Regions from separate parts of the Homo sapiens genome. Here region 2 is linked to region 1. The links come from fine-mapping of genetic effects on gene expression. Tissue or cell type: blood mononuclear cells. Region 1 holds a variant in brackets; the other region holds the start of a gene. All regions are shown on one strand. Distances are from middle to middle.

What was found. PIP is the estimated chance that this variant, and not a neighbour inherited with it, causes the effect. A credible set is the group of variants that fine-mapping cannot tell apart.
Region 2: it holds the start of SLC25A24, and the variant in region 1 is the best candidate, but not a certain one, in a credible set for the expression of SLC25A24 in blood mononuclear cells (TOPMed, PIP 0.53).

The regions. Positions count from the first base shown.
Region 1 is chr1:108,124,909-108,136,721 of GRCh38, reverse strand. SLC25A24 (solute carrier family 25 member 24) reads left to right here. Exons shown (of 10, transcript NM_013386.5): 10 at 1-2,679. The coding sequence ends at 69. Among named protein-coding and RNA genes, the nearest start is that of LINC02785, 66 kb to the right of the region's middle. RefSeq lists a silencer at 10,853-10,992. The variant C/T (reference allele first, on the strand shown) is at 3,838.
Region 2 is chr1:108,195,248-108,207,060 of GRCh38, reverse strand. SLC25A24 (solute carrier family 25 member 24) reads left to right here and starts at 6,718. Exons shown (of 10, transcript NM_013386.5): 1 at 6,718-7,105. The coding sequence starts at 6,923. RefSeq lists an enhancer at 6,500-6,794 and a silencer at 6,595-6,934.

The DNA.
Region 1 (11,813 bases):
CCTGCTGTAGGCATCAGTTATGTGGTTTATGAAAATATGAAGCAAACTTTAGGAGTAACCCAGAAATGATGTTGCATTTTTTGCTTTAGCCTGATAATTGAAACTTTCAACAATCTCTGGAGTGACTTTTTCTCCTCGAATTGAAACAAGTCTATGGCAAAAGAAGCTGCATTTTTTTCACAAAAGGGAAGATGGTAACAATGGTCACTTCAAACTTTTGGGCTAAATTATATGTACACAGAAATGTTCAAAATCATAGTTTTAATGTGTTTTGAAAAGGCCACACAATTATACTTTATCTTTTCTTAATAATCCTGCAAATCTCTGCCCTGAATCCGAAATCTGAAAATGTACTGGCTTGAACAAAATTTGTTTTGTGTGTTAGAGTTATAAATCATTAATCTTTATTTCGGGTGGTTTACGTTTATGCCAGTTCCTTTATATTTAAATTTCTTGTTTTATATATTTTGAATGTCTTTATAGATTTCTTTAAATTTCCTTATAGAACCATTAATAGAAAATCATTACATTTAAAATATACCTTACAGCAAAAGCATCCAAATAAGTATAGGGTTTATGTCCTTATTTTTCTTTCAGCTGAATACGAATGAACACAGTGGTGGAATTTCTGAAGGGAAGTGATGAAATTATATTTATTTCAGTGGGCACTTTTCCATTTTACCACTGTACCATTATTTGGTTCCTGGAGTTATACACTAATTTTCAGTATATTACTGTTAAATTACCAACACAAGGCAATTTATTTGAAAGATTCCGTTTATCCTGCCATTGCTTTGAAAAGCAGCAGGAAACGAAATCCTTTGACTTGTATCAGCTTCTGCAGAGCATCTTTGTTTTCCTTTGTCCTTTGTTTCCTACCTTTTGAATCAGATTCCGTTTTAGTCAGGAAGACTTCTTGGGACCATTCTTAGTAACCTGAAATTTCTTTTTTAATTGCATGAAGTGGATTGATCATGAGCAAATGATGTGCTTATTTCTCCCTCACTGTTGAATATCTTTGAACTTGCTGTTTTCAATATGGGCAGCACAAAGGTGAGAGATACATATTAATAGTAGTATGTATTACTCTTATACATTAGATACCTATATTTAAATGAAAGGCCCAATTTGTAAACATATACATTCATATTCTCTCTTGCCCCAAGTTTTAGGAACATGTTAGGATATAGGAGACTTAATTTATAATAATGAGAGCATTTTTTTATTTTACTAAAGCCATTTTTATAGTCAACTATCTTTTCTTATTTGTGTGATTAGAACTTAGAAAAATATTTACTAGTTGAAGTTATTATCAGTTTTTAATTTAGTTCTTAAACTCATTTCACTTCTAATAATTTCTGTTATAAATTTCCAGCATTTTAATGAAAATCTAATGATGTAATAGGCATTTTCTTTATTTGAACCTACCTCTTTTATTTTCTGAACCAAAGAGAAAGATGGACTGGTGTTTGTGAAACATTTTTAAAAATGTAGTTTCATTTATATTAGTTATGTTTGATAAATGTCTCAGTATTTTTATAATATGATAAGCCTGGGATTCTACTTTTAGGGTTATTTGTACTTTTGAGTAATATATAAAGTGACAATATTAAGGTACATGATCAGCTCTTTCTATTTTTACTCGTAAAAATTATGGAAATGAATAATTTTGCTAACAACTTTGAAATTTCAAACTTCTGGAAAATATGAAAATATTCATTGTTCATTATGAATTTAAATTGTAAGGTATGAATGTGATTTGTCTGTACATCTTGTATCTTTTCCAAAAAATGATTCTGTATCTTTTGGAAAAAAGCCGAGAGTTGAAGATAGTATATTTCTGGTAGTACTGAATATTTACTTACAGTTTCTATCAAAAATATATATTTGTTTCTAAAATTACTTGTTTTCCAGTTTTTATTTTTTTTAGAGAAAATTCTTAAGTCTCAGTTTCCTAATTGAAAAAAAAAAATTATAAATAAAGCAAAAATTGTATCCTACAGCTTAGCTAGCTTAGATGTTTGGCACCAGTTTGAATCATGCTTTTTACAGCTGGCTCCATGTAGTCTTTCCAAACATTTTGGCCTTTCCTGAGCAGCCCTTGTAGATATTGTCTGTATGATGCATTTTGACACAAGGTGATATTTTTTGTGATATCAAAATTCCACATTTACCCATTAGAGTTACAGCCCTGGGGTTCACAGTACCAAGGGGGACCCAGAGCCTCAGGATTGGCCAGGCTCATTTTGCCGTGGAGTATCAGTTTGTCTTGAAATTGTGGGAAAAAATTCTAAGTTGAATTCACTGGTAAGTAATTTTTTAAAATTTCATAATGCAGATTACATCCAAAATTTGATTTAAAAATTAAAACATAAGACTGCAGAGAAATTCTGCATTTCAACTCCAATACTATCCAGACTTCAGAAATAACTTATCAGTTATTTCTGTAAGCTTCTTGCTTACCTGGATACCTGACAGGTGAGATGGCTGTAGCAGACACTGGCAGTTCCCTGCCCACACACCTGTCCCTGTCCACAGCTGCACAAGGCAGCTCTGTGTGCAATTGCCAGCATCTGCTCCTCTGTTCTCAGGGAATCTTTGTTAGAAAAATGCTGCCATATTTGTTTCTCACCTATTAGTCTTGTCTCCCAGTCAAGAGAATAAATTTATGCAAGCAGAGATTGTACTTTACAGTATTTTGTCTTTGAGCTTGGCATTATGTTGCATTTGTAAAAATGTGGCATGGCTTCCTCATCCCCCAATAGGAACTTTGCCAGCCCTTTTGTTCTCATGGAACTTCCTTTTTTGAAAAGAGCACCAAAGGAGTAAAAATACTGTGGAGGGAGCAACCCTCCTTTGCCATATGCTCTCATTGGGAGACATGTGGAGCAGTCTGAAGTCATTTAGGCCACTCTCTGGGAGAGCACATCCTATGATGTTCTCCCAGCCTAGCCCCTTCCACTGTGCTCAAGTCCAAGCTGACCAGCTTTCTGACCACAGTGTAAACAAAGATGATTGTCAGTGGGCCCCAGAATCCTATACCCAGACACTAAGCCACAGCCACTAACCCCAGGCCACTTCAGCATTTATTCCACCAGCATTCACTCACTCATTTGTTCTTGCAGTGTGCATTTAGTAGGCACCTGTTATGGCTTGGCTTTATCCCCATCCAAATCCCATCTTGAATTGTAACTCCCACAATTCCCACATGTCATGGAAGGAACTGGTGGGAGGTGAATGAATTATGGGGGTGGGTCTTTCCTGCACTCTTCTCATGATAGTGAATGAGTCTCATGAGATCTGATGGTTTTAAAAACAGGAGTTTCCCTGCACAAACTCTCTCTCTCTTTGCCTGCTGCCATCCATGTAAGATGTGACTTGCTCCTCCTTGCCTTCTGCCATGATTATGAGGCTTCTTTTGTAAATTGTGCAGTCTTGGATATGTCTTTATCAGCAATGTGAAAATGGACTAATACAGTAAATTGGTACCCGTAAAGTGGGGCGTTGCTGAAAAGATACCTGAAAATGTGGAAGTGACTTTGGAACTGGGTAACAGGCAGAGATTGGAACAGATTGGAGGGCTCAGAAGAAGGCAAGAAAACGTGAGAAAGTTCTGAACTTCCTAGAGAGTTGTTGAATGGCTTAGCCCAAAATGCTGATAGCAATGTGGACAATAAAATCCAGGCTGAGGTGATTTAGGATGGAGATGAGGACCTTGTTAGGAATGGAGCAAAGTTGACTCTTGTTATGTTTTAGCAAAGAGACTGGGGGCGTTTTGCCCCTGCCCTAGAGATTTGTGGATCTTTGAACTTGAGAGAGATAATTTAGGGTATCTGG[C/T]AAAAGAAATTTCTAAGCAGCAAAGCCTTCAAGAGGTGACTTGGGTACTGTTAAAGGCATTCAGTTTTATAAGGGAAGCACAGCATAAAAGTTTGGAAAATTTGCAGCCTGACTATGCAACAGAAAGGAAAAATCCATTTTCTGGGGAGAAATTCAACCTGGCTGTAGAAATTTGCTTAAGTAGCAAGGAGCTGTTAATGTTAATCCCCAAGACCGTGGAGAAAATGTCTCCAGGCCATGTCAGAGACTTTATGGCAGCCCCTCCCATCACAGGCCCAGAGGCCCAGGAGGAAAAAGTGGTTTTGTGGGCCAGGCCCAGGGTCCCCATGCTGTGTGCAGCCTAGGGACTTGGTGCCCTGTGTCCCAGCCGTGGCTGAAAAGAGTCAATGTACAGCTCAGGCTGTGGCTTCAGAGGGTGGAATCCCAAGCCTTGGCAGCTTCCATGTGGTGTTGAGCCTGTGGGTGTAAAGAGGTCAAGCACTGAGGTTTGGGAACCTTCACCTAGATTTCAGAAGATGTATGGAAACGCCTGGATGCCCAGGCAACAGTTTGCTGCAGGGGCTGGGCCCTCATGGAGAACCTCTGCTAGGGCAGTGCAGAAGGGAAACGTGGGGTTGGAGCCCCTATACAGTGTCCCTACTAGGACACTGCGCAGTGGAGCTGTGAGAAGAGGGCCACCATCCTCCAGACCCCAGAATGGTAGATCCACAGACGGCTTGTACTGTGTGCCTGGAAAAGCTGCAGACACTCAACACGAGCCCATGAAAGCAGCCGGAAGAAAAGCTGTACCCTGCAAAGCCACAGGGGCAGAGCTGCCCAAGATCAAGGGAACCCACCTCTTGCATCAGCATGACCTGGATGTGAGACCTGGAGTCAAAGGAAATCATTTTGGAACTGTAAAATTTGACTGCCCTGCTGGATTTCGGACTTGCATGGGCCCTGTAACCCCTTTGTTTTGGCCAATTTCTCCCACTGGGAATGGCTGTATTTACCCAATAACTGTATCCCCACTGTATCTAGGAAGTAACTGCTTGCTTTTGATTTTACAGGCTCATAGGTGGAAGGGACTTCCTTTGTCTCAGATGAGACTTTGGACTGTGGACTTTTGGGGTTAATGATGAAATGAGTTAAGACTTTGGGGAACTGGTGGAGGCATGATTGGTTTTGAAATGTGAGGACATGAGATTTGGAGGGCCAGGGGTGGAATGATATGGTTTGGCTGTGTCCCCACCAAAATCTCAACTGGAATTATATCTCCCAGAATTCCCACATGTTGTGGGAGGTACCCAGGGGGAGATAATTGAATCATGGAGGCAGGTCTTTCCCATGCTTTTCTTGTGATAGTGAATAAGTCTCACAAGATCTGATGGGTTTATCAGGGGTTTCCACTTTTGATTCTTCCTCATTTTATCTTGCCGCTGCCATGTAAGAAGTGCCTTTTGCCTCCCTCCATGATTTTGAGGCCTCCCCTGCCATGTGGAACTGTAAGTCCATTGAAACCTCTTTTTCTTCCCAGTCTCAGGTATGTCTTTATCAGCAGTGTGAAAATGGACTAATACAGCAGCCAATGTGGGCTGAGGTCACAACATTGAACAAAAGACTCAGTACTTCTTGTCTAGTGGGGAGAGACAGATGATAAACTATTAAGTAAAACATGTAGTGTGTCAGATGGTGCTAAGTGCAGAAGGGAGAGCTGGGGCTGTGGCCAGGGCTGCAGTTGTACAGAGATTGATAGAGAAGGCCTTATTGAGGAGGTGCTGTTTGAAGGTGGTGCAGGAATGCTCTATACTGAGTCTGGAAAGAGCATCCAGGCAGCAGAGGGAAGCAGATGCAGTGGCCACAGGAGGGAGGAACCTGCAGGAGGCCCGTGTGGCTGCAGGAGAGGAAGCCCAGGGAGGCAGCAATCCAGGAAGCAGAGGGGACTCTGAGGGAGCCACATCATCATTCATTTCTCCATTTCTTGCTTTCTAGTTCTGCAATAGCAGCAGTTTCTTGGGGGTATTCCCTAAATAAGATTCAAATGTCTCTCCTCGGGGGGTGGGGGACACTTGGGGTAGTATCACTGGAAATGATGGAAAATACCTCAGTTTCTGGGAACTGTTATGTCCATCACAGACAGAATAGCTTACTGCTACCTGGACACGTGGGCCCATTCTCCAGGTAGCATGTCTATTGGCTTCTCTGTGCCTCTCCTCCTCCAGGGAGAATTGTAATTTTTAAAAAGAGAATTAACTTAGAAACCTTAAAATCTTTCTAGATATTTTCTGAGAATTACAGAGGATTTTAATCTTAGCAAACTAACAAGGCTCCCACTGTCCTCACTTCCTTCTCTGATCACTTTGTATCTGCCCAGGGTTGGTTGGTTTGTTTATTTGTTTTTAATTTACACAAGTTTGACAATGTTGGAAACAATCCTTTTATTTGATTTTTTGTTTTGTGTTCATTGATAATGTCCTGTTTTAAATTCACTTCCACAAAGTCAAGATAACCATAACAAACAAGTGATTTGTATTTTGTTACTCCAGAAAGAGAGGCTGGTTTGTCCAGGGATTTTAAAGCTTTCTAAAGTACGCTTCGAACCTAAGCTTATTATAGACTCCCAGTTTTCCCTAGTCAGCATGAGTTTACACTCATCTGATTACACCGATTCTACCACACAATCTCAGCCACGGGCTCAGGATGAAGTGGCCTGAATCCCAGCACCTGTAATCAGTGCCTTCTGTAGCTATGTGTCACCCAGCCAGTCTTTGCTGTACTGCAGGGGGTCCCCACATCAATCTTACTGCAGCAAATGGGATGGTAAAAATGTGGTTTTTTCTTTTTTAATTTAAATCAACTTAAGTCCAGCTCCTTAACCACTCAGTGTTGTGCCAATGATCTAGGATGTTGGCCCCTTTGGACACTGGCCATGGTCTACACCACTCACAGCTGAGGCGCCCTTTGTTCTAGCCTGCATGGTCCCTTGGTTCCAGCAGTTGTGCCATGCTTGGGATGGGAGGAGTTGGGAAGACATGGAGTGTCTGTGTCTGGGGTCCGGCCTTTCCATTCTGAAATGGTGATGAGTAGAATGTGGATCTCCCTTAGCCTTGGGACCCACTAACCTTTGTCTTCTTCCAAACCTCCGACCCACCTCTTTTTCTCTTTGCTCTTAAAATTATCCCTCTCCTCTTCCCTCTGAGGCCCCTGTCATCCTCTCTGCAGGTAGCTTCAGTGTTTGCAAAAGACAGAAAAGACTTTGATTGAAAGTGACTTCTGATTTCTACTTTAAAAAATCACCAAGGGAAGGAAATGCTAAAGGCCTGACTCCTGCTCTGAAATGAGAAAAAAGGGAAAATATAGGGACATAAATACAAGTTAGTATTTTACTCAGTTATCTTGCTATAGCCTCTCAAATTGCCTCCTGTCTCCTGGTACTCTGTCTCAGGAGTAAGCCTTGTGCCTTACAGCAGTAGGCTCTGCACATAAAAGGAGATGGCTGTTTTGTTTGTTTTAACATAAACAGATTGTTATACCTATTGAATCTCCAAGTTCCCACAACTATATTGATATGTGGCAATGCAGTTTCACAACCAGACAGTTCAATAAACGGTGTCCAGGTTGAAGGGTCAACTATGTACTTAAAATTCAACCCTTTTCAATGGCCTGGGGAGGAGATGGGAAGGATGGGAGAGGGTACAATTACTTGGAATGCTGAAAAGAATGATAAGGTGAGACTCCCTCTCTGCAAGGAGTCTAGAGCTGTTTCTAAATCTGTTTTGGTTTTGGATGTGTTGGTGAATATGAGTGCAAGCTCTCAGAAGACATGGCTGATAAAGTTGCAAGTGTAGAATTAGAGGTGAAATTGATGAGTTGGGTGCTTGAGTTTCTAAGTAGAAGAATCTGGTGGAATTCTACCAGAAGATGAGGAACATGGTTTAAAGCTCATCCTTTAGTGATCTTTGTTTTTGTCCTGATTTTATTCCCTTCCTGCTTTACTCTTTGTAAAGATGTTCCCCCTTAAGATATAGGGAAATGTTCTATAAGGTAATAAAGCTATATTAAGGCGAACAAAAAGTAAATGAATGGAGACTTTTGCTGGAGTTTGAAAAGTTAGCTATTTTATATGTATGTTTTCTTTGTCTAGTAAAAATGTACGACTATTGTTTTATGGAATTCCAATCAGAGACTGTGGGAGACTTTCTTTACTTTGCTAAGCCTTAATAATTCACTTACTCTTTTTATAAGGCAGTGAGAAACATTCATTGGTCAAATGGTTTGTTCAACAATGTTCTTTCTATTTTATTCACATAGCATTAACTAATAATCTTTCTATTTTATTCATGGTACCATTGACATCATCAACACTTTATTGAGTGTAACTGGATTTATTATAATTAATCACAATAAACTGCACATGTTTAAATTATATAATTTCATAAGCTTTGACATATGTACATACCCATGAACAAAAGATGGTGAACATACCAGTTTCTGAGTACATCAAGAAACCACTGATTGCTTTCTTTCTTTTTTTTTTTTGAGACGGAATCTCGCCCTGTTGCCCAGGCTGGAGTGCAGTGGTGTGATCTCGGCTCACTGCAACCTCAGCCTCCTGGGTTCAAGTGATTCTTCTGTCTCAGCCTCCTGAGTAGCTGGGACTACAGGAGCGTGCCACCATGCCTGGCTAATTTTTGTATTTTTGGTAGAGACAGGGTTTCACCATATTGGCCAGGCTGCTCTCGAACTCCTGACCTCGTGATCTGTCCACCTCGGCCTCCCAAAGTGCTGGGATTACAGGCGTGAGCCACCGCACCCAGCCTGATTTCTTTCTTTCTATCACTGTAGATTCATTTGTATTTCATAGAATTTTATGTAAATGTCTAGCTTTTCACTCTGCAAAGTCAATCAGAGTTATCTGTGTTGTTGCATGTCTCAATAATTTATTCTTTGTTTTGCAGAGTAGTATTCCCTTGTAGGAACATTCCACAGTATGAGACAAGGCCCTGCAGAGAAACTCTACATAGAAAGGGTCTCCATGGGGCTGGGCACTGTGGCTCACACCTGTAATCCCAGCACTTTGGGAGGCTGAGGTGGGCGGATCACAAGGTCAGGAGATGGAGACCATCCTGGCCAACATGGTGAAACCCCATCTCTAATAAAAACACAAAAATTAGCTGGGTGTGGTGGCACATGCCTGGAATCCCAGCTACTTGGGAGGCTGAGGCACGAGAGTCGCTTGAACCCAGGAGGTGGAGGTTGCAGTGAGCTGAGATTGCGCCACTGCATGCCAGCCTGGGTGACAGAGTGAGACTCCACTTAAAAAAAATTAAAAAAAAAAAAATAATAATAATAAAAAAAGAAAGAGTCTCCATGGAACACTTGATCCCTAATTGGCAGAAGAGGTCAAGGAAAAACACTAATGTGAAACAAGGGCAAAAGGTGCAAGAAAATTAAAAGGCAGTTAATAACTTCAGGAAAAATTAAAAAGCTCTAATATAAACGAAATGTGGCTGGGTGTGGCGGCTCATGCCTATATAATCCCAGCACTTTGAGAAGCTGAAGTGGGCAGATCGCTTGAGGCTAGGAGTTTGAGACCAGCCTTGGTAACGTAGCAAAACCCCATCTGTACGAAAAATATAAAAATTAGCTGGGCATGGTGGCCTGTGCTTGTAGTCCCAGCTATTGAGGGGAGAGCAGCTAAGGTGGGAGGATTGCTTGAGCCTGGGAGGTCAGGCTGCAGTGAGCTGTGATTGTGCCACTGCACTCCAGCCTGGGCAACAGAGCGAGACCCTGTCTCAAAAAAAAAAAAAAAGAAATGTAATTATAGTGAACACTAGCTCGGCAGTGAAAAATACTGCAAAGTCACATCATCAATGTGCTTTCAAAATCAAACTGTAGGCCTAAATATAGCTATAGAAGAATGTAAACAAGGAAGCAAATGTAATCAGAAGCTGAGCAGTAGGAGAGAGGAGGTGGGGTGAAAAGGGAAGGATGAGGAAGGTGGGGGTGTGCAAGGCTCTTGCTTACCTGGGTACCCGACAGGTGAGATGGCTGTAGCAGACACTGGCAGTTCCCTGCCCACACACCTGGCCCTGACCACGGCTGCACAAGGCAGCTCTGTGTGCAATTGCCAGCATCTGCTTTGGTGTTGCTCTTGGTGCTGGAGCTTACTTGCTGCCCATGTGACAGGAGCAGCTCTAAACCAGTGGTCGTGAGCTCTGTTTCGCACTGGCTCCCATTTCTACACTGGGTCTGGTGCAGGTGCCTATGGTGGCAGCTGGTGTGATGATTTGCCCTTTACTGATGGCCTTCTCCTCATCTTACTTTCCCATCCTGTCCTTGAATCATCCATTTCAGGATCTGCCTCTGAAAGAACCCAAACTAAGGCAGTCAATCCACCACAGACAGACAAGGAAATAGAAGCAGAGCGTTTTATTTAGAGATTATGGAGGAAAATACGAAAAGAAGCAACTAACAGAACTGCAGGTCATTACCTCTAGGGACCAAGACTAGAGGTGGGAAGGGGCGGAAGAGGAGACCATGCTTTTAAATATATGCATGGCATGTGCTACTTTAATATAATTAAAAACAATCACTTAAAGCAAATTGGAACAGTGTAACAAATGAAATCAAATGAAATCAAAAGGAGAGAGCACAAATATATCTGAGTAACTTGGTCTGTCCCCCAGCCCCCTTAATGTTGTTACCTGAATATGTCAATTGTTGTCAAAAGACAAGCATAAACTGAAATCGATTATTGTATGGATCTGAACCGATGGAAAATATTCTCTGTACAGCAATTTTAAAAGTATAATGGTAATCACTGTGTTAGGGATTAAGTATACTTCCCACCCTGTGTTTTTGCCATTGTATAGGAAAAATCATGCAGAATACATTGATAATCACTGTAGAAATGAGATGAGATTTATTAACTAAAACACTTAGCACTTCACCTGGCACTACTTTATGAAGAAGCACTTTGTATAGGGCACTATGTGTAGTTTATATATATAAAGAAACATTTGTGTATTGGGTTTGAATGTTACTTGTTGTTGTTGAATATTCTTCTGCTAGTCCACCCTGTCCCTGATGGAAGCTATGCCCCCGGATCAGAAACGCTTGATGCTCAAGCGGTCCTGGGAAACCACTATTGCAAGTAACTGTCAGTGCCCTCTACTTTCCACTAGATGGCAGACTTCCCCCAGCTCTGTGGACGGCAGATACCCAGGAGAGGAGGACAGAGCTTCAGATCTTTGCTTTCTCCCTTTCCCTTGACCTGGAAAATCACTGGGCTGCCTCTGAGGCCAGATTTAGATTTCCTGCACAAGCCATCATTACCTTGTTTAGAGGAGTGAAATTAGGGTCGACCTGTCCTGTCATTCCAGGACAGAAGGTGACAAATAAGGTCCTTTATGTGTAGCACTGAGGAGAAGGGCTTGTTCTTAATTTTTAAGATATTTTCCAAAAATAGAAAAATTCTGTTTTACAAGTCAAATAAGAAATGATTGAAAAACAAGTATCACTGTTCATATACAGAGTCGTAGGTAAATGTTCAGATACAAAAATTGTGACCATAGAGCATATTTTTGGATATTTGTTTTCATAGTGTGATGAATATTTTTGTTTGCTTAAAATTATTTCAGAAGTATAATCATAATTCAAGCTTGAAATACAAGAGTGGTAAAATGAGAGCAAAAATAAACAAGTAATAAAACGCACCACAAAATTTCTGACTCCATTCCCTTTTAGGGATTTCTTTTTTTACAAGAGTTATTTTTATTGATTTGTGTGACACACTGGCTGACACGTTTTAAAATAAATAAACTTTGGGTTTCAGATGAACACAGTTTGCATGCTGTCTCTCTGGAACAATACACATCAGAGGAAGAAGTTAATAGGAAAATCAGGCAACCCAAACTGTGTTTTTTAGGTTAATCAGGAATTTCCTTCAATTCTAGTAAACAGGTGGAAATAGAAATTTTGAGCTGAGAAAAGTA
Region 2 (11,813 bases), 70 kb before region 1:
AAAAAGACTCAGACTCCCACACAATAATAGTGGGAGACTTTAACATCCCACTGTTAATACTAGATTGATCAATGAGACCGAAAATTAACAAGGATATTTAGGACTTGATCTCAGCTCTGGACCAAGCAGACCTAATAAACATCTACGGAACTCTCCACCCCAAATCAACAGAATATACATTCTTCTCAGCACCACATAGCACTTATTCTAAAATTGGCCACACAATTGGAAGTAAAAGACTCCTCGCCAAATGCAAAAGAACGAAAATCATAAAAAACAGTCTCTCAGACCACAGTGCAAATTGAAACTCAGGATTAAGAAACTCATTCAAAACCTTACAACTACATGGAAACTGACCAACCTGCTCCTGAATGACTATTGGGTAAATAACAAAATTGAGGTAGAAATAAATAACACTTTGAAACCAATGGGAACAAAGACACAACATACCAGAATATCTGGGACACAGCTAAAGCAGTGTGTAGAGGGAAATTTAAAGCACTAAATGCCCCCATGAGAAAGTGGGAAAGATCTAAAATCAACACCCTAACTTCACAATTAAAAAAACCAGAGAAGCAACAGCAAAAAAATTCAAACGCTAACAGAAGACAAGAAATAACTAAGATCAGAGCAGGACTGAAGGAGATAGAGACACGAAAAACCCTTAAAAAAATCAATGAATCCAGGAGCTGGTTTTTTGAGAAGATTAACAAAATAGACTGCTAGCCAGACTAAAAAAGAAGAAAAGAGAGAAGGATCAAATAGACACAATAAAAATGATAAAGGGGACATTACCACTGATCCCACAGAAATACAAACTACCTTAAGAGAATACTATAAACACCTCTATGCAAATAAACTAGAAAATCTAGAAGAAATGGGTAAATTCCTGGACACATACTCTCTCCCAAGACTAAGCCAGGAAGAAGTCGATTCCCTGAATACTACCAATAACAAGTTCTGAAATTGAGGCAATAATTAATAGCCTACAAACTAAAAAAAAAAAATAGCACAGAACCAGATGGATTCACAGCCAAACTCTACCAGAGGTAGAAGGAGGAACTGGTACCATTCCTTCAGAAACTATTCCAAACAATGGAAAAAAAGAGACTCTTCTCTAACTCATTTTATGAGGCCAGCATCATACTGATACCAAAACCTGGCAGAGACACAACACAGAAAGAAAATTTCAGGTCAATATCCCTGATGAACTTCGATGAAAAAATCCTCAATAAAATATTGGCAAACTGAATCCAGCAGCAAATCAAAAAGCTTATCCACCATGATCAAGTTGGCTTCATCCCTGGGATGCAAGGCTGGTTCCACATACAGAAATCAATAAACGTAATTCATCACATAAACAGAACCAATGACAAAAGCCACATGATTATTTCAATAGATGCAGAAAAGGCCTTTGATAAAATTCAACAGCCGATTCATGCTAAAAACTCTCAATAAACTAGGTACTGATGAAACGTATCTCAAAATAATAAGAGCTATTTATGAGAAACCCACAGCCAATATCATACTGAATGGGCAAAAGCTGAAAGCATTCCCTTTGACAACTGGCACAAGACAAGGATGCCCTTTCTCACCACTCCTATTCAACATAGTATTGGAAGTTCTGGCCAGGGCAATCAGGCAAAAGAAAGAAATAAAGGATATTCAAATAGGAAGAGGGGAAGTCAAATTATCTCTGTTTGCAGATGACATGATTGTATATTTAGAAAACCCCATTGTCTCAGCCCAAAAACTCCTTAAGCTGATAAGCAACTTCAAGCAAAGTCTCAGGGTACAAAATCAATGTGCAAAAATCACTAGCATTTCTATACACCAATAAGAAACAGAGAGACAAATCATGAGTGAACTCCCATTCACAACTGCTACCAACAGAATAAAAAACCTAGGAATACAACTTACAAGGGATGTGAAAGATATCTTCAAGGAGAATTACACCAATGCCAAGGAAATAAGAGACAACACAAACAAATGGAAAAACATTCCATGCTCATGGATAGGAAGAATCAATATCATGAAAATGGCCATACTGCCCAAAGTAATTTATAGATTCAATGCTAATCCCATCAAGCTACCATTGACTTTCTTCACAGAATTAGAAAAAACTATTTTAAATTTGATATGGAACCAAAAAAGAGCCCGTATAGCCAAGAAAATCTTAAGTAAAAAGAGAAAAGCTGGAGGCATCACTTTACCTGACTTTTAACTACACTACAAGGCTACAGTAACCAAAACAGCATGGCACTGGTACCAAAACAGAGATATAGACCAATGGAACAGAACAGAGTCCACAGAAATAATGCCACACATCTACAACCATCTGAGCTTTGACAAGCCTGATAAAAACAAGCAATGGGGAAAGGATTCCCCATTTAATAGATGGTGTTGGGAAAACTGGCTAGCCATATGCAGAAAACTGAAACAGGACCCCTTCCTTACACCTTATACAAAAATTAATTCAAGATGGATTAAAGACTTAAACATAAGACCTAAAACCATAAAAACCCTAGAAGAAAACCTAGGCAATACCATTCAGGACATAGGCATGGGCAAAGGCTTCATGACTAAAACACCAAAAGCAATTGTGACACAAGCCAAAATTGACAAATGGGATCTAATTAAACTAAAGAGCTTCTGCACAGAAAAAGAAACTATCATCAGAGTGACCAGGCAACATACAGAATGGGAGAAAATTTTTACAATCTATCCATCTGACAAAGGGCTAATATCCAGAATCTACAAGGAACTTAAACAAATCTACAAGAAAAAAACAAACAACCCCATCAAAAACTGGGCAAAGGATATGAATAGATACTTCTCAAAAGAAGACATTTATGCAACCAAGAAACATACGAAGAAAATCTCATCATCACTGTTCATTAGAGAAATGCAAATCAAAACCACAATGAGATACCATCTCACACCACTCAGATTGGTGAACATTAAAAAGTCAGGAAACAACAGATGCTGGAGAGGATGTGGAGAAATAGGAACGCTTTTACACTGGTGGTGGGAATGTAAATTAGTTCAACCGTTGTGGAAGACAGTGTGGTGATTCCTCAAGGATCTAGAACCAGAAATACCATTTGACCCAGCAATCCCATTACTGGGTGTATATATCCAAAGGATTATAAATCATTCACATGCACGTTTATTGCACCACTATTCACAACAGCAAAGACTTGGACCCAACCCAAATGCCCATCAGTGATAGAATGGATAAAGAAAATGTGGCACATATATACCATGGAATAGTATGCAGCCATAAAAAAGGATGAGTTCATGTCCTTTGTAGTGACATGGATGATGCTGAAAGCCATCATTCTCAGCAAACTAACACAGGAACAGAAAACCAAACACCGCATGTTCTCAGTCATAAGTGGGAGTTGAACAATGAGAACACATGGACACAGGGAGGAGAACATCACATGCCGGGGCCTGTTGGGGGTGGGGAGGGGAGGGAGTGGGGAGGGGAGGGATAGCATTAGGAGACATACCTAATGTAGGTGATGGGTTGATGGGTGCAGCAAACCACCATGGCACATTTATACCTATGTAACAAACCTGCACATTCTGCACATGTATCCCAGAACTTAAAGTACAATGAAAAAAAATTATCCTTCCAGTAATGGTTATGGCTTTACACTGAACCAATCAAATTCTCTTACAGAGCCTAAGCTGTGATTACTCAAATTTGAGGGAGCAATGACCAGGATCTTTTTTTCCTTTCTGAATATTCTTGAAGGATTTTGAAATAGAATTGTTCCTTGTGGAGAGGCAGATTCTTTGGTCTTATTAGCACTACACAATAAGTAAGTGATTCAGTGGATAGAAAGAAGAAATGTGTTTATCAACTAAAACTAGCCAAATCCAGAATGATTATGAAAAGATTCCAAAGTAGGTGCTGAAAGAGGTCTTCAAGGACTGAAACTGGTCAAGTCTGAAGGTTATTCCAGTGGAAAATGGTAGTACATTAGAAGGCCAGAAGTTGGGGACAATAGAAGTAGCTAAATTGGGCTGAACCCTAGACTTCTGTTCTGACCAAGGAAATGAATTAAGGAAGTGTGAATTCTGGGTTTCTACTACTGCCCTCTAGGAACCACTGGTCTTTGGGAATTGCCAGTAGAATTAAGCAGGGGTGCCTTCTTTCGTCCAGATGTGTAAATGTCCATGTAAAGGTTTCTTCTCTTATGCAGGAAGTTGCTAGTGTTAATTACACCTTTTATCTTCATGGTGTTATCTCGATTCCTTGCAGACATAGTGTCGTAAAATACAGTAAAAATGCAATACTAGAAAATTGAAATTAAAAAGACAAGCTCTGAGTTTTATTATTAGATATAACAAAATTACTTTATCAAATTGCTATAAAGTTTCTAAATCCTTCCTCTCAATGTCTGACTCATTGCAGACAGGTAACAGGTTGCACTTCGAGTGGTTTGCTTCATACTAGCTGTGCTTTTCAAACTTTATGAAATGCTCATCCAGGGTTCTTGTATAAGTGCAATTCTTACTTAGTGGGCTTGGGCAGGCCTGAGATTATTTCTGACAAGCTCCCAAGTGACACTGATGCTGCTGGTCTGTGGCCCACACTTCATAAACGCTTTGATTTTCACAGTAACACTGATGTGACACCAATGCTGCTGGTGTGTGGCCCATACTTCATAACTATTCATAAACTGTTTTGATGTTCACACTGATCTTTTGAGAATTTTTATTCCATTTTACTCATGCTTAAGTCAGATTTATTGATATCCCAGAGTAAATTAACCCATGTTAGTGTGCAGTTCTGCTGGCACACACATGCAGTTGTGTAACCACTACCACCAAAAGCAAGATGTAAAATAGCTCCATCACCCCCACAAGCCTTCTGATGCTCTTTTGTCATCAATTCCCTTCCCGCTAGTCACAACTGGTAACTACTGATTTGTTTTCTGTCCCTATAGTTTTGCCTTTTCCAGAATGTCATTGTTGACAGGTATCAGTAATTCATTCCTTTTTATTGCTAATTACTATCTCACTGTATGAATGCAACACAGGTTGTTTACCAGTTCACCCGTTAAAGAACATTTTGTTTCTGCGCTTGACAGTTATGAATAGAACTGCTATAAACCCTCAAGTAAAAGTTTTGGTGTGAAGATAATTTTCTCAGCAAAAACGCTGACAGGTAATTTTTCTAAGTATTACTTTTTTAAAAAAGTAAAATAGCCTGTAGCCCCAGCTACTCAGGAGGCTGAGGCAGGAGAATAGCTTGAACCCAGGAGGCGGAGGTTGCAGTGAGTTGAGATTGTGCCACTGCATTCCAGCCTGGGCGACAGAGCTAGACTGTCTCAAAGAAAAAAAAAAAAAAAAAAGAAATAAATAAAAAGTAAAATGAAAGCATGTAAGTGTAAGATGACTAGTTCAAGCAACCTCTCTTCAAGTACAGAGTATTCAGAGTAGAGATTAAAAGAGGTTTTCAAGGACAGAGAAAATTTGAAGTTTGAAGGCAGTTCCAAAGGAAGGCAATGATTCTTAATAAGACTGGAAGTTGGAAGTAATATAAAAAGATAAATCAGTTTCAAGATGATTTTACTAAGCAGGCAGCCCTTAATTTACAAATTCTAGATTCATACATATCTTAAACATACAAAATGATATGAGGAGAGGTAAGTTCAGGGTCTGAGTTCCTGGCTGTTGTTGGAACTGATTTCTGTGTAGTGATTCAGAAGATGTGAGACACCCTAATTTACAAGTACAGAGGTATCTTCTTTTCTGCAAACAGCAGTACAACAATAGTTCCTCTTACGCAGCTGTGAATGAACAGGATTATTACAATTAATGATATCTCATTTGATTGGCGCCTTAGAGAATTAAGACCTTTCACACCTAATATACAACTTTGTTGTGAAGGCAGATATTTATATTCTCATTTTACTGATGAGAGACTACCCGGAGACGCTATGTCACACCTGAAGGATTAGGTACTTTCTCTGTTAAGTCCAATGTTCCTTCCGTTATTCCATGCTAGGCAGTAATAAGTTCTGTCTTGCCTGAGTAATAAGCTCCAAACCTCGGAACTGCACCCATCTTGAGAAGGAGGAGGGCGCTGTGGTTTTTTCTGATAAGTGCAGCTGGCAGACACTCTATACGCTTAATCACGGGCAAATCCTAGCTAAGCTGCCTACCAAACTAGTCCTTCTTTTCCCCGTTGCCCACGCAGATGGCTGTTGATCTTTTCTGCAACAAATCCAGGAGTTTCTCCTTTTTGTTTTATAATTGCTCCAATAGATGCTTTAGGATTTAACTCTCTGCTTTTTAAAGCAGAATCGCCATCCCAGGTGTGCAACCACGAAAAAATTAGACATCCGTGAGAGACAATGCCCTCCATGGCCCAGTTTCCAGGCAGAGAGAAGCAGCTCTGGGCTGACCGCCAAGGCTCCGGCCCGAGAGGGTCTTTAAGTGGAGTAACCAGTCTTCAAGACCCCGCTCCCAAGCCACCGACGCGCTGACGCTGCAGCCCTGGACCTGCTGGGGGCCTCTTCCTCGGACCCGCATGCTGACAGCGGGACTGGCAACTGGGCAGAGGTCGACCCCGGGTCCGCACAGCACCTCCCGAGACCCAGCTCCCAGCTCCCTCACTTCCGGCTCTCTGGAGGCGGGCCCGGCCAGTGCCGCCGAGGCCAGCGCGGCGAGCTCCTCCCCAGCAGCGGCGGGACGGCCACACCCTGCGCTCCGCGCGGGCTCGGGTGGGGTCTCCGCTCCTGCGCCCTGCGCCCTGCGCGCCGCAGCCGCAACCCCGACGGCGCCCCAAACGCTGTTGCGCCGCGCGCCCCGCCCAGCCCGGCCTCGCGCTGGTCCCGGTCTCGCCCCGCAGCCCTCGATCTCCCGTGACTTCCTCGGCCAGGCCGCCTGCGCCTCTGGGACCATGTTGCGCTGGCTGCGGGACTTCGTGCTGCCCACCGCGGCCTGCCAGGACGCGGAGCAGCCGACGCGCTACGAGACCCTCTTCCAGGCACTGGACCGCAATGGGGACGGAGTGGTGGACATCGGCGAGCTGCAGGAGGGGCTCAGGAACCTGGGCATCCCTCTGGGCCAGGACGCCGAGGAGGTGGGTCGCCGCCGGGGCGCCGCCTGAGCGTAGGGAGGGCTGCGGGCGCTGGGGACACTGCGAGGACCGAGGAGGGCGGCGGCTTGAGGCGTTGCCAGGAGAGGAAGGAGGAACTGTGGCGCCCAGCGCTCCGGTGGCTTCAGAAACTCGGGCGTGGGGCCGCGACCGGCGACCCCGGTAACAGAAGTGGGTCATAATACGAAAGTCTACTGGTATTTGTCCAGATAAAATGAGTGTTGTGGACACTCTGGCCCACGGGCACTGTTAAATTTTTAAGACACTTTTGTCCTGAATCCATCCCAGGTTCTTTGTTTTCTGTTTTAATACCTTGCAGACATGTAATCCGTTTTAGCTGTCAGACTTCAGTGGGTCCCAAGTTTTGTATAAAGGCGCACACATTCGATCTCTTTCGAAGCTGCTTTGTTACAGCAGCTATGTGTATTGTCTACTGTTTGAAAACTGTTTGAAAACCAATCGCGTGTTTCCCCCACTTCCTGTTGAGAAGGAATGGCGGCATTCCATTGTTTAAGACATTCCTAGGTTAATGCCCTAGGTACATAAATTGATCTGAAGGGTTGACTTGACCTGCGACTGAGCAATTTCATTTTCTCTGAGTCATCTTAACTGTGCCCCTGAACTTCTGCCCCTTTAGTAGGGTGGAGATATGTGGAACTTCTCCAACCCTGTTGAAGCGTTCCCTGACACTGGCATTCTCTTATCCAAAGAGGGAAAGTGATTAGGTTACTATGAGGGCCAACAACTGTTATATAGTTATATTTCACTTCTCTTTTAATGTCTTTGGTAGTTATAGGCCTCTTCAGTTTACTGTTTCTTCTAGAGTCAGATTTAGTAAGTTACAATTTTTTTTGAAACTGCCTGTTCTGTCCAAGGTTCATAATACTCACCGATGATTTTATAACACTTCTGACTGAATCTGTAGGTAGGTTCTCTATTTCATTCCTCATATCTATCCTTTTCTCCCCTTCAATCTTGCCAAAGTTTTGTGTATTTTATTCATACTTTGAAGGAACCAACTTTTGGTACTTTGTGCTGATTGTCCCAGAAATGGCCCAGTTGGAGTTCCCCACCATGTCCAATCATTGGCTGGAAGCAGCCCAGGAAAGGGACGACCTTGCTGCAGTGCATCAGCAGATGCCAGGGTTAGAGGCTAGAGAGTGGAAGTCAACTGTGTTCCTCACAGTAGGTGCCTTTGAAGGGAGATCTCAGTGGTACAACTCCATGGTCCCTACAATATACAAAAGCTCTTTGGAGTGCTCAATGATTTTTAAGATTGTAAAGGGATCCTGAGATCAAAAAGCTTGAGAATTGCTGCTGTATCACCATTTTTACGTAACTGCATCATATTCTGTTATATGTTTGTGTCATAGTATATGTTACCAATTCTTTTTAAATCACCTTTTACTTTATTGATAGTTTAAAAACGATTGTAAGTGAAATTGCAATGGATGTCCTTTGTATTCATTTTCTCATTCTGGTCCAGTTACTTTCGTAAGATAAATTTTGAGGAGTGGACATTGCTGAGTCTGAAGGTAACACACATTTTAAACTGGGATACGTATTGCCTTTCGGAAACCTTAGACCCATTTTCACTCTTTTGACTGACAGTGCTTGCTTCTCCACATCCTCGCTCATTCAGGGTATCAGTCTTTGTAAAGTCTCCTATTCTGCAGGTGAAATTCCTTTTCATTTCCTGTCTTAGTCCATTTAGTGTTGCTATAGTGGAATATCTGAGACAGGGTAATTTATAAAGAAAAGACATTTATTTAGCTCACAGTTCCGCAGGCTGGGAAGTTTAAGAAGCGTGGTGCTGGCATCTGCTGGACTCCTGGGGAGGGCTTTCCTGCTGTGTCACAACATGGTGGAAAGTCAAAGTGGAAGTGGACATGTGTGAAGAAGCAAAATCCGAGGGGTGTCCTGGCTTTATAGCAACCCAGCCTCGAGGGAACTGATCCATTACTGAGGGAACTAATTCAGTCTCATGAGAGAGAGAACTCACTCACTACTGCAAGAATGACACCAAGCCATTCATGAGGGATCTGCCTCCGTAACCCTGACACCTCCTGCTAGGTCCCTCCTCCCAACACGGCCACATCAGGGATCAGACTTCAACATGAGTTTTTGTGGGGACAAACAAAACGTAGCACTTGCTTTGCCTTTTGGTTCTATTCACATCCTCCACAGGATTGCATTATGCCTACCCATTTGGTGAGGGCAGTCTTCTTTAATTGGTTTACTGATTCAAATGCTACCCTCCTCCAGAGACATCCTCACAGACACACCCAGAAATCATGTTTTACCAGTTATCTGGGCATCCCTTAGTCCAGACGAGTTGATACATAAAATTAACCATCACACATGGGATAGAATTAGGATTACACAGTCAACCTTTATGGGAGAAAATTTCAGAGGCATGTCAGGGGTTTATGTAATGTCAAGGAGTGAGGACATTGGCTACTTGAGCATAGAAATGAGAACTGTGGGGTGACTCTTCGGTGGAAAGTTTCAAGGTAGTAGTTTGTATCTAAGCCAAATACTCAGCTTGAAGCAAAATCTCTATAAATTTTCATCTGATTTGATCTCATCTCCGTGTTTCCAAGCATTTGTAATGAATTGAGCATTTAGAAGAGAACAAATTTCTGTTTAAGTTTCTTTAGATTTTAGATGGAAAGAATGTAGAAATAAGAGTAGAATGTAGAAATAGGTATAAGGAATATAATAGCTAACCATTACTAAGTGTTCCAGAATTATCCAGGGAAGAGAAAAGAATTCAAGGCAAGTCCTGAGACAAAATTAAGAACCAATTGGAAGTGAAAGCGCTACATTTTTTTTTCTGGTATGACCTTTCTTTTCTGTATGTTCCAAATCTCCTCACTATGAAATTAGTGAAAAATTAAAGTTAAAAATTAGAGAAAATTCACATTAAGTTCTCCTAGGACTCAGTAGTATAAGGGTATAGACTGAGAGTAGAATGTAGTGTGAGAACAAGGAGATACAGTATTTAACCATTACTAATTCTCTTATACTTGTCTAGTAATCCTATTTCCTTTTAAAAGTCTTCAGTTATTTTCTCTTTACGCACCTCCTTCTCCCTCTTGTCTTCCTCCTTCTACCCCCATCTTCTTTCTTCCTGTGGAGCCTTCATGAATGGGATTAGTGCTTGTATAAAAGTGACCTGGAAGACCTTCCTTGCCCCTTCCACCATGTGAGGACACAGTGAGAAAACAGTGGTCCATGGAACCGGAAAGTGGGTCCTCACTAGACAGTAAATCTCCTAGCACTTCGATCTAGGACTTCCAGTGTCTGGAACTGCAAGAAATCAATGCTTATTTTTTAAGTAAGCCAATAGTATTTTTGTCATAGCAGCCCAGTTGGACTAGGACAATTATCAAGAGCAAGAAGGGAAGCAGCAAGCTACAAGAGAGTTCCGTCCTTGGTGTAAATTGACCGTGTAATCCTTGTCAAGTTTGAGCCTTACTGGAGCTTTACTTTCTTATTCTTAAAATGCAGATATCTTGCCTGCATCCTGGACAGAGCTTTTAACAAGGTCATATGTTGCAGAATATGAAAGTTCATGTTAAAAAACCCTTTAAAATGTGGTATCCCATTTACTAGCTGGTGAACTTCTTGAGGAACCTCTGTGCCCATGGGTATGAAGTGTATGCTGAATGATCACCCAATGTTAGAGGAGTGGGTGGACTGGTAACCTGATTTAAGGGCCATTCTAACTCTTACATTCTATGATTTTTTTAATTCTGTCTTTAAGTTTTTACATTTACAATCACAGAAAAAATAGTCACATAGAAGAATAGTAGCTTAGCAAATGTTTATTGCATTGAGTGGAATCAGGATTTCACTCCATTAAGTAATTCCTCTGTTAACAAAGAGGGTTCATTTCATTTTTATTTCATTAATATTGCTTTTTTTTTTTTTTTCTGGAGACAGAATCTTGCTCTATCACCAAGGCTGGAGTGCAGTGGTGCGATCTCGGCTCACTGCAGCCTCTGCTTCCTGGATTCAAGCGATTCTTGTGCCTCAGCCTCCCAAGCAGCTGAGATTACAGGCACATGCCACCACACCTGGTTAACTTTTGTATTTTCTAGTAGAGATGGGATTTTGCCATTTTGGTCAGGCTGGTCTTGAATTCCTGGCCTCTAGTGATCTGCCTGCCTCTGCCTCTGAAAGTGCTAAGATTACAGGCATGAGCTACCATGGCCAGCCCATTTCCTTAATATTTTAATTGTCAGACATGTTATGGTTTCTGGCACAATATTAAGAAGACATGATATGAAATCACAGGGTGAATTTTAGGGCATCACAACAGAAAGATTATGGTATAAGAAAAACAATGGAATTCCAACTACATTTCTGTCAAATGTTCTAAAATATATAAAATCTGTATCTTTTGTGTTCTCTCCTGATTTATATTCTAAATTTGATGTTATCCTTCTCTGCAGAAATAAAGTGTCTGAAAGAATGAAAAAAATGGAAGAATTCTTTAGTAAGGTATAAAATACCCTTTCTATCTTTGTAGCATTCTAAGCCTTTTGTCACCTTTCCAAACTCCCAACATGCCATATTCCCTGACTAGGCCACAGCCATGTACATTGATCCCTTTATTTTCTTCTCTCTGCCTGAGATTTCTCTCATTCCCCCTTCTCTGCCTGGTATATGATTGCCCATTGTTTAA